Homo sapiens: one gene and its partners. The protein of the gene in region 1 purifies or fractionates together with the protein of each later gene. This does not show direct contact. Each region holds a gene or a part of one and is shown on either strand. Other genes may lie near its edges. The genes, in order: LNP1, NDUFAF5 and PITRM1.

Region 1 (3,654 bases):
CACATGACCACAAGAACAATCGGGGAATCATGACATCACTAAACAGACAAAATAAGATGCCAGTCATAGACCCTAAAGACACAGATATATCAACTATCTGCCAAGGAATTCAAAACAGCTGTTTTAAAGAAGCTCAAAGAACTTCAGAAAATACAGAGAAACAAGTCAACAAAATTAGGAAAATAATAAATGGTCAGATGAGAAATTTACCAGATAAATTGAAATAATAAAATCAGACCAATTTTGGAGCTGAAAAATACAATGAATGTAAAAATGTAATAGAGAGCATCAAGAGCAGGATTGATCAATCAGAAAAAGAATCTGTAAACTTGAAGACAGGTTATATGAAAATATACAGAGGAGAAGAAAGGAAAAAGAGTGGAAAGGAATAAAGAAACTTTATAGGGTTTATGGGATAGTATCAAAAGAGCAAATACGCAAATTACCAGCATTCAAGAGGGAGTAGAGAAAGATAAGGGTGTAAAAGGCTTATTTAAAGCAGTAATAGCAGAAAACTTCCCAAACCTGGAGAAATATATAAATAGCCAGGTACAGGAAGGTCAAAGATTTGCAATTAGATTCAATCCAAATAAGACTATCACAAGACATATTATAATCAAACTCTACAGATCTAAGACAAAGACAGGATCCTAAAAGCAGCAAGACAAAAAAAGCAAGTAACATATACGGCAGTTCCAATATGCCTAGCAGCAGATTTCTCAACAGAAATCTTACAGGCCAGGGAAGAGTGGTATGATATAGTCAAAGTGCTAAAGGAAAAAAAAGACTGTCAATCAAGAATACTGTACTCAGCAAAACTGTCATTCAGAAATGAACATGAGATAAAGACTTTCCTAGTCACACAAAATCTGAGGGAGTTCATCACCACCAGACCTGTCTTACAAGAAATGCTAAAGGGTGTTCTTCAAGCTGAAAGGACACTAATGATAAACACAGAAACATCTGAAAGTATAAAACTCCCTGGCAAAAATACGTACATAGCTAAATTTAATTTATAATACTCTGATACTGTAATGGTAGCATTTAAATACTGTAATGAGGGTGTGTAAATCACGTATCTTTAGTAGGGCTAAAAGATAAAAGTATTAAAATTAATAACTACAGCAACTTGTTGATGGATATGCAATATAAAAATACTTAAATTGTGAAATTGAAAGCACAAAATATTGAGGAAAGGAAGTGGAGTTAAAGTGTAGTTTGCATGTGTATGTGTAAATAATCAAAGTTAACTTGTTATCAGTCTAAAATAACCTGTAATATCTATGTTTTTTGAAGCAAAAACCGACAATAGATACACTAAAAATAAAAATCAGCCAGGCGAAGTGGCTCATGCCTGTAATCCCAGCACTTTGGGAGGCTGAGGCAGGCGGATCATGAGGCCAGGAGTTTAAGACCAGCCTGGCCAACATGGCAAAACCCCGTCTCTACTAAAAATACAAAAATTAGCCAGGCATGGTGGCGGGCACCTGTAATTCCAGCTACTTGGGAGGCTGAGGCAGGAGAATCGCTTGAACCCGGGAGGCGGAGGTTGCAGTGAGCCGAGATCATGCCATTGCACTCCAGCCTGGGCAACAAGAGCAAGACTCCATCTCAAAAAATAAAAATAAAAAAATAAAAATCAAGCAATCAAAAACACCACCACAGACACATTTATAATGTTTAAACAAGTATCTGGGTATCCCATGGCCCAGTCAAATTGACACATGAAATTACCCATCACACCACCTATATTCTGGGCTCTGGCTGTACAAAATGAACAGTTTCTGTCCTCGTGGGGCTTACATCCTATTGAGGGGATCACACTATTTTTTTATTTTTCCCACAGACAAGTGTACACCTGAGAGGTTTTTTTTTTCTTGAGGCGGCATCTCACTCTGTCACCCAGGCTGGAGTATAATAGGGTAATCTCGGCTCACTGCAACCTCCGCCTCTGGGGTTCAAGCGATTCTCCTGCCTCAGCCTCCTGAGTAGCTGGGATTACAGGCATGTGCCACCATGCCCGGCTAATTTTTGTATTTTTAGTAGAGACAGGGTTTCACCATGTTGGTCAGCCTGATCTTGAACTCCTGACCTCAGGTGATCCACCCGCTTCGGCCTCCCAAAGTGTTGGGATTACAGGCACAAGCCACTGCACCCGGCCCACATAGGTAATTTCTAATAGTGCTAGGTGCTAATATCGTAGACCAAAGAAAGAGAAGAGGTGTATGAAGGGAGGCATGGGTGGGCAGAAATGTTGAACTTTATAGTGAAAGTGAAGAGGATTTAAAAGTCTTTCAGCTCAAGAGTGAAATTACAGTTATGCTATAGGAAGAGTAAATTGATATCAAGGTGCAGGGTGACACATAGAAGAGAGGCACTAGAGGCAGAGAAATTATCTGGGAAGCAAGCAAATATAGGATTTAGGCAAGATGAAGGAAATGAATAAAAGAGAAAAAAGAGGGGAATGTAATAGTATTAGGAGTTGAGGCCTTTGGGAAGTGATTAGATCATGAGGATGGAGCCCTTAAAAATAGGATGAGTGCCCCTATAAAAATGAGACTCCAGAGAACTTTCTTGCCCCTTTCCACTATTTGAGGACACAAACCAAATTTGCAGTCCTCAACCCAGAATAGGGCTCTTACAGAATTTGACCATGCTGGCACACTGATCTCAAACCCCCATCCTCAGGAATTGTGAGAAATAAATTTCTATAGTTTATTAGCTAAGTAGTTTTATGATATTTTTGTTATAGCAGCCTGTACTAAGATGGGAAGAAACTATTTATTGAGTATCTGTTATGTGTTATACATACTCTTAGGAGTTTTCACTTATATGAACTAAGAAGTGTCAGAATGGGTGAAAAAACTATAAGAAAGATATTACAACAAAGTTGAATTTGTTGAAGACTTCACAGCTGATTTTGTGTTTATGTGTGTATATAAATACAACAGCATAATCATTTGTGCTTGGGTAGGTAAGGATGAAAAAGAGAGAGGTCTAAAAAGGTCTATGGTTTCAAATATGAGTAACTGCTAAGGTAATAGTGGTATTATTAGAAAAAATGGATAACACAGGCTGGGTACAGTAGCTCATGCCTGTAATCCCAGCACTTTGAGAGGCCGAGGCGGGCGGATCACGAGGTCAGAAGATCGAGACCATCCTGGCTAACACGGTGAAACCCCGTCTCTACTAAAAATACAAAAAATTATCCAGGTGTGGTGGCGGGCGCCAGTAGTCCCAGCTACTCGGGAGGCTGAGACAAGAGAATCGCTTGAACCCAGGAGGCAGAGGTTGCAGTAAGCCGAGATCACACCACTGCACTCCAGCCTGGGCAACAGAGCGAAATTCCATCTTGGAAAAAAAAAAAAAAAAAGGATAACACAAAGAGAAAGAATGAGTGGGGAAAATGATGAGTTATATTTTTGACAAAAGTCAGGAATCCAAGCAAAACTGCTCAGTAAGTAGTAAGAAATATAGGGCTAGAGGTAAAAAGGGAAGCTATGCCAAAAGATATATAGACAGTGATTATCTGCACAGAAATGGTACCTGAAGCAATGAGATTTACTTTGGTTACTAATGGAGAGATTGAAGATAAAGAAGAAGACATATTCTAATAAATTCCTCACTTGAGGAATATCTAGAGCTGTGCTGTCC
Region 2 (3,180 bases), on another chromosome or scaffold:
TAAAAGCTTAATAGCACACTTCCAGCAGATTTAACTACAAAAATAATTTCACTAGTGTTATACACACTAAAATAAGTGTTTTCACTACAATCACTCACATTAAACAATAAGGGTCCTCAATTAGCTGTGTTTGATTTACTTAATTTTTTTAAACAAATGGAGCTTTTTTTGGGATAGCCAGAGTAGAGTAATCCTTAGCTCCACCCCACCATCCACATATAATTCCGTTGACATTAAATAAGCAAAAGTAATATTCTTGCTTGGAAAATTCAAATTTTACAGGAAGTTTAAAAAGTGAAAAGTACAAGTCTCCCTCCTAGTTTCTATACCCCTGACAGACATTCAAACAGAATGACACAGACACACCCAGTTCCTCAGTCCCCTTCCTCAGCAACAGCCACTTAACACTGAGATGTGTTCTTCAAAAACAAGTATTAGTGCACAAAAACACATGTCCTTTTGGAAATATAGACCCCTGGAATTTACCCATTCCTCCATCATCAGTTTGCACTTTAAAACACAGGGTTTTTGGTGGATTTTTCTTTAGATGAGGTCTCCTCTTTTGCCCAGGTTGGAGTGCCGTGGCACAGACAGCTCACTGCAGCCTTGAACTCCTGCCTGCCTCAGCCTCCCAAGTAGCTGGGACTACAGGCATGCGCCATTGCACCTGGCTAGCGCAGTTTGTTTTTTGTTGTTGTTCTCTCTCTTCAAGTTCTGAAAATTAAGCTAAAAAAAAAAAAAACCCCAAAAAACAAAACGCCAAATTCTACTTCACAGGTTTACTTTGTGTTAAAACAAAAAAGCTACCAAGCGTATCCCAGTTTCAAATATCGATGATTTTTCAAACTGAAGGGAACAATAATTTCTTTTTCTCCTACAAATCTTGGTTTTTAACTATAACTTAGTCTTTCAAAGGGCAAGTTTGTTATATAATTAGTTCAAAATGTAACTGAATATCTACTATGTGGAAAGTCCCATGTGCTACGTACAGGCTAACACACAGCCCCCACCCATGGACAGCTTGTTGCTAATACAGTAAAGGAGGGAAGGAAGGCAGAAGAGAGACTGAGAGGAGACAGAAGGAAATGCTATTATAGATCACTGAAGGCTGAAGATGAGGCTAGGGCAGTGCCCAGGTTAAATGGAAAAGACAGCGAACAGCTAACTGGAAACAAAACACTTAGCGCTCACTCCTGCTTGCTTCTCAGCCTTCTCCCTGCTTCCTCTATGTTCTTCTCACCTATCCTAAGCTGTCTGAGCTTGATTATCTCCAAATGATTTTGAACCCTCCTCGACAACAACAGGACTGTGAACTTGGATTAGGATAATAGTGCTTAAGCCCTGAAATTACAAAGGAAAGCTTAACAATAAACTGATGACTGTGCAGAGACTGTTACATGTGATTCTACTTCTGGTATTCTTTAAAATGTTTTCTTCTTCCCTAAGGTAGGGTGGGGTGTAAAACCATGGTGGTCCCACCCACACCATGGAGATAAAAAAGAAATAAGGTTAAATTCAGATGCTTTAAAAAAAAAGAGTTGAGGAGGGATTTAATAAAGATACATGCTCTTCTAAATTCTAAAACCACATAACTCTGGAGAAGGTGCATATTCATCTGTTCCTCTTCAAGGCAAAGAAAACAGTATGACAAATGAAAAAGGTGTAAAAGGTCAGCATGAGTAATATTTTCCAAGGCATTTACATATGTGAACATTATTTGCAAATATTTTAGGGAAATATTTTCTTTGCTTTTAGGCTGAATCTGCAAAGACACTCAGCAGTATCCTTATGAGAACAGAAACAATATGAAACTGAAATGGTTACTATAGATGTGATATTAGGTTTTCCTAATTATATGAAAAGCCTATTAGTAAATAGCTTAGAGTGCTTCTTGCTTCAAAATATAATAATTTTAGATGTTAAAGCTATCCATTTCTGATGAAAATTCTGGACGACATTAACACTGAATAAATATTTATTGTGATTTTTTCCCCGGTGGCATAAGGTTGTTTATTTTTCCTAGCTCTCCAAATGACACAGTTGCGGAACCTCTTTCAGCTGGTCTTGCCTGAAAATAATAAAGATTAAAGATATTAGAAATAGATAGATAATACACAGCCCCAATTAAAGCCCTTAATGCTGTCTTACATTACCCCTTCCCCCAAGTTAGTAAACAATAATCTGAACACGAACCCACTAAGAAAAGTGATCCATCTTAGTAACGTTACCTGTGACTCATGATATTTCCATCCTATCATGTAATAGATCTGGTATGTAGCAGGTACTGAACCATCTTCATTTCTGTACATTTCTAAAAAGACAATAATGGTTAAAGTCTGAAAAAATGCAAGTAGGAAAAAATTTCTGCTCAATAAAGGTCATGTTCTTCAAAAAGAAATGGGTACAAGGATACTTGTAAGATTCTGAGAACATCTTACATGAAAAATTCTTAATACTGAGGGTAAGGAAATAGTAAAGGCTGTCTGGAAAAAGCTACAGGATCTGTGTTTTGAGAGGAAGGACAAGAAGTCTGAGGGAGCCTTAACAGGAATGGAAAATGCATTGGCAACGTGAAGGGAATCAACATGATACAGCACAAGTGCCTTGGTGAGGCGGGTGAAAGAGTGGTCGCCCCTTACCTCTGTACACTGCCGCAGCTGCCAGCATTGTGTCTCGATGCAGCAGGGCTTTTCTATTCCAAGCACAGTTACTCTCACCCATACCTACAAATACACTACAGGTAGTTTGAGATAATACAGCAAACACCCTGAACAGCTCAATACCACAGACTTAATCCCGTCTCATCTAACAGTATACCTGTCCTCATTCTCTAAGGGTCATGTAAACCTAAATCTCATTTCACTTTCAGATTATAACTGGGTTTCTTAGTGACTCTAAAGCGAAACTACTTGAAACTTTTTCAACATTAAGACAGGCAAGTGAAATTTCAGGAGGCAGCTCCACAATGCTTTACTTGCCAGCAATGGTCTAAAGTAAGCCCGCTGGGCAAAAGCCAGGTGACTGCCACCCCAGGTGAGTTGTCAGCAATTGGCAAGAACTTTACCAAGGATGTCACATCTCATGCTTTTAGCTGCTCTTTGGAGGAGGACAGGTCAGTGCAACAATGCCTCACTCCTAAGCCATAATGCAAGTATGACTGTGAAACTTGGAAGACGGCTT
Region 3 (3,654 bases), on another chromosome or scaffold:
GAGTAGTCTGATAGGAAAACAGACTTTGGCTGGAATACGCTGGCAGAGGAATGGCCCAAACCGTAGCCTGAAGGCTGTTCACTGCTGTTTCTTTGACTCATGAATCCATGGATTTGACATGGAACAGTGATGTCGGTGATAACTAACTTAGTAAATTTGATTAACTTAGAGAGTTGTAGTCTAGTTCATGGATGTCAGTAGAGAAGCCGTGCTGCTCCGTGGAGGAGGTTGACGCTCATGTCTTCTCCGTTGGTGTCTGCGTATCCCTGGTTCAATTCTGGATGTGGTCTCTCTGTTGGCCCCTGGGAGTGGAGCCTTTGGGAGGTGGCCTCCTGCTGCTCCAGGCCCCTCTGCCTGCAACCCTTTCACCTTAAATGTCCTCTTGATTTGACAGATTAATGACAAGAAAGTGCAGAAAGAAAGGTTAAAATATTTTCTTTGTACCATATAACAAGGCTACCTTTTCCTTGACTGTCTGAAAATTTATTTTAATATTTTCTTAATTTCTTTTACTCACTTTATTTCTTTTTTTAGTTTTTGTTATTTTGAGACAGGGTCTGTCTCTGGCACTCGGGCTGGAGTGCAGTGGTGCCATTACAACTAGCTGTAGCCGTGACCTCCTGGGCTCAAGTGATCCTCCAATCTCAGCCTCCCAAGTAGCTGGGGCTACAGGTGTGCACCACCATGCCCAGCTAATTTTTAAAAATTTTTTGTTGAGATGGGAGCTCACTACATTGCCCAGGCTGGTCTCAGACTCCTGGACCCAAGCAATCCTCCCACCTCAGCCTCCAAAGTGCTGGCATTATAGGCATGAGCCACTCTGCCCAGCCTATTTTTATTTTTTTTAAGCGTTTATTATTTAAAACACTTACACCTGCCCTAACACTTGTTATTAGCTGTGTGAATTTTATAAACTCTGTTACTTCTTATATATTTCAAGTGAGTTCTGGATTTTTCTCTTTTCTCTTGGAAACTTGATTTTCAGAAACCTGTGCCCAGCAGCTCTGGTGGAGATGCCCACGTTCCCCATGGCTCCCAGGTCATTAGGAAGCTGGTCATGGTAAGAACCACAGCCCATCCGGGTTGCCAGCGGGTGGGTGCTTCCCTGCATGGCTGTGTCTGCCACTGATGTTCGAATGTTCCTCCGTCCGCCTGTCTGTGGGGCTGGCGTGTCCCTAGAGTTGCGAGTTCAGTGCATCCTTTGTCACTGCCACCCTGAGCCTTTTCTCTCTCAGACAGTACTGAGTGAAGGCCCTGGTGGGGGTGTGTCCTCCTGTGCCGAGGAGGGCCCTGGTATGGGGTGCGTCTTCCCTGTGCCCAGGAAGAGGGCTACTGCTCTGGGTGGTCTCCTCCCGGGCAACTCACCCTTCTTTGAACGTAGCTCCCGAGCTGAGTCGATGCCAGTGGAGCGGTCTGACAGATCCTTTCCGCGACTCAGCCTGGTGCTGATGCTGTTTGGTTTGGTTCCTTGTGGAGTAGAGTGATTTAACACATTCCTATGATATAATATGATATGAAATATAAATATGTAACTGTGATATAAACGGCGTAGAATGAAATGTTTTTAATTGAACAGTATACGTTAAGGCATCACGTCAAGATTGGAGGACTTCATGTCAGTTTTACAGTGAGAAATTGTGTGGAGTGACGGAACTGCAGTGCCTTGCTCTCGCGCCCCAGCACCTGGCTGCAGAGTGTCACGGAGATGGGACCCCTGAGATGGCTCCAGTCCCAGTGCCGTGGGCAGTGCGTGGGAGCACAGCCGCCTCTGACCCCTGAGTGGGTCCAGTCCCAGTGCCGTGGGCGGTGCATGGCAGCACAGCCGCCTCTGACCATACCGTGTCCCTCAGGAACCCACCTTCAAGCCCTGGCAGATGAAGACTCACTTCCTGATGCCCTTCCCGGTGAATTACGTGGGTGAATGCATCCGAACTGTCCCCTACACGGACCCAGATCATGCCAGGTAGGAGGGTGTAGGTCGGGACCTCTCAGGCCTGAGCCTTACGGAAGAGCTTGTCAAGGCTGTTCGAGTTCACAGGGCGTGTTTTAGCACAGGAAAAGTCTGTGCTGACTCTGAGTGTTGGACCTGGGGCTGTGTGAGTCTACGAGTGCTCCTCTTTAACCAGCAGTCTTTGTGAACAGAGACCCAGTTTTAGAGCCAGTCATTTTTGTAAACAATTTCTATTATTGAGGAGTCCTATGAACAATACAGATACCTATGACCTTAAACACAGACTGCTTTCAACATGCCCCATGTACTCACCTCATCTCTAGGTAAAAATCGAATGAATTTAGGCTGAGATTTCTGATAAACATGGTAGGTTAAGCCTTCATGAGGACAGATGCGTGAATGACAGCAAAGGCAGATCAAGACACGAAGCTACAAGGGAAAGAGTGGGAGGTGACCCGGAGAGCCATGGGGGCTGCAGGAGAACCTCGTGAGCCAGACTCTGGGTGGGTGGGGGGTGCCTGACCTGGGGCCACAGAGGGACAGGGCAGTGGGGAGAAACCAGGTGGTCCTGCAGAGCCCTGCAGATGGCAGGGCTGGAGGCCGCCTCACAGTCCCTCTAAGGAGTTTGTCTCCCCTGTCTCCCCACCAAGTCAGAAGCTCAGGGAAGGAGGCCCTGGGTTGAGCAGCCGAAGCCACAGCCAAGAGTCAGGGTCAGGCCTGTTCCCAAAGTGGCGTGGGGCGAGGGAGTTTGCAGCCTACAGACTGGCCCTCCAGCCCCTTCTTCCGAACTCTGGCTGCCCCTTGGCTGTGTTCATCCCATCTGGGGAAACTGGCCAGACCAGGACAGACTCACAGACGTGCACCTTTGGGGACCCGTCAGTTGGGTGTGTATGACACAGATATGTGCAAACATGTTATATCCCGGAAATTCACTTCCTGTGTCCTTGTCCCAGGCAGCTACCCCCATGAGGGACTAAACCAAGGAGTGAGCCTGGTAGAGAGGGGGAAGGCAGGCTTAGGCCTGGGCAGCCTGTCCTGATTGGAGAAGGAGCCGGGCCTCCGAGGTGCACGTGTGTCACAGAGGGTCACAGATGGGGAGGTGTGTAGGAGGCAGGCGGGAAGAAACGTGGGGCTGCAGTGGGGGCCCAGAAAGAGCTGGCTGTAGAAGTATGTGGTCAGCTGTTTTGTTCATTTATTTCCATATTTGTAGAAGATGAACAGATCTGTCTGCTATGCCGGCAGAAGAGTGGTGTCTGTTTCCACTATCCAACAGGAAAATGTAGACAGAAAACACTAAAAATGTGGAGGTTCCCCCTGGGCAGTGGGATTCCAGATCTTTTTTTCCTTGTGTTTTGTATTTTATAATCTTTCAAAAGTGAGCATGTTTTTAATATACAAGTAATAGAAATTTCTCAGGAAGGATAATGTGTGGACGGATGGAACGCCATCCCTGCCGGTGCTGGTGGAGACTCCGTCCCCCAGGGTCTGACTCCAGCCTCGCTAGTCCCGGCTGACGGCGCCCCAGCCACCCGAGTGGCGCTGGGTTTCTCCTGGAGGACCCACACGAGATGGTCGTGACTTCTCCCACCACAGCCCCTGGGAACACGCCCACTCCTTCCTTGATTTCCCACCTGGCCTATTTGACTCCCTTCATCCACTTTAGGAAAAGGCCTGTCTGTGGAAGCGGCGACCTGGGGCTGATC

Evidence for each region.
Region 2: the proteins of LNP1 (region 1) and NDUFAF5 purify together in Homo sapiens (affinity purification with mass spectrometry; one large-scale study listed by BioGRID and IntAct). This does not show direct contact.
Region 3: the proteins of LNP1 (region 1) and PITRM1 purify together in Homo sapiens (affinity purification with mass spectrometry; one large-scale study listed by BioGRID and IntAct). This does not show direct contact.

What each region holds. Positions count from the first base shown.
Region 1 is NC_000003.12:100,404,511-100,408,164, reverse strand, and holds part of LNP1 (leukemia NUP98 fusion partner 1), read right to left. Parts: intron 1-3,654.
Region 2 is NC_000020.11:13,816,006-13,819,185, reverse strand, and holds part of NDUFAF5 (arginine-hydroxylase NDUFAF5, mitochondrial), read right to left. Parts: intron 2,724-3,180; coding exon 2,640-2,723; intron 2,312-2,639; coding exon 2,229-2,311; exon of another isoform or gene 2,228-2,228; intron 2,069-2,227; coding exon 1,976-2,068; 3' UTR 1-1,975. UniProt on the Homo sapiens protein: Arginine hydroxylase that mediates hydroxylation of 'Arg-111' of NDUFS7 and is involved in the assembly of mitochondrial NADH:ubiquinone oxidoreductase complex (complex I, MT-ND1) at early stages. May also have methyltransferase activity.
Region 3 is NC_000010.11:3,141,698-3,145,351, reverse strand, and holds part of PITRM1 (presequence protease, mitochondrial isoform 2 precursor), read left to right. Parts: exon of another isoform or gene 1-381; intron 382-985; coding exon 986-1,060; intron 1,061-1,365; exon of another isoform or gene 1,366-1,496; intron 1,497-1,576; exon of another isoform or gene 1,577-1,850; coding exon 1,851-1,963; intron 1,964-2,263; exon of another isoform or gene 2,264-2,380; intron 2,381-3,582; exon of another isoform or gene 3,583-3,654. UniProt on the Homo sapiens protein: Metalloendopeptidase of the mitochondrial matrix that functions in peptide cleavage and degradation rather than in protein processing. Has an ATP-independent activity. Specifically cleaves peptides in the range of 5 to 65 residues.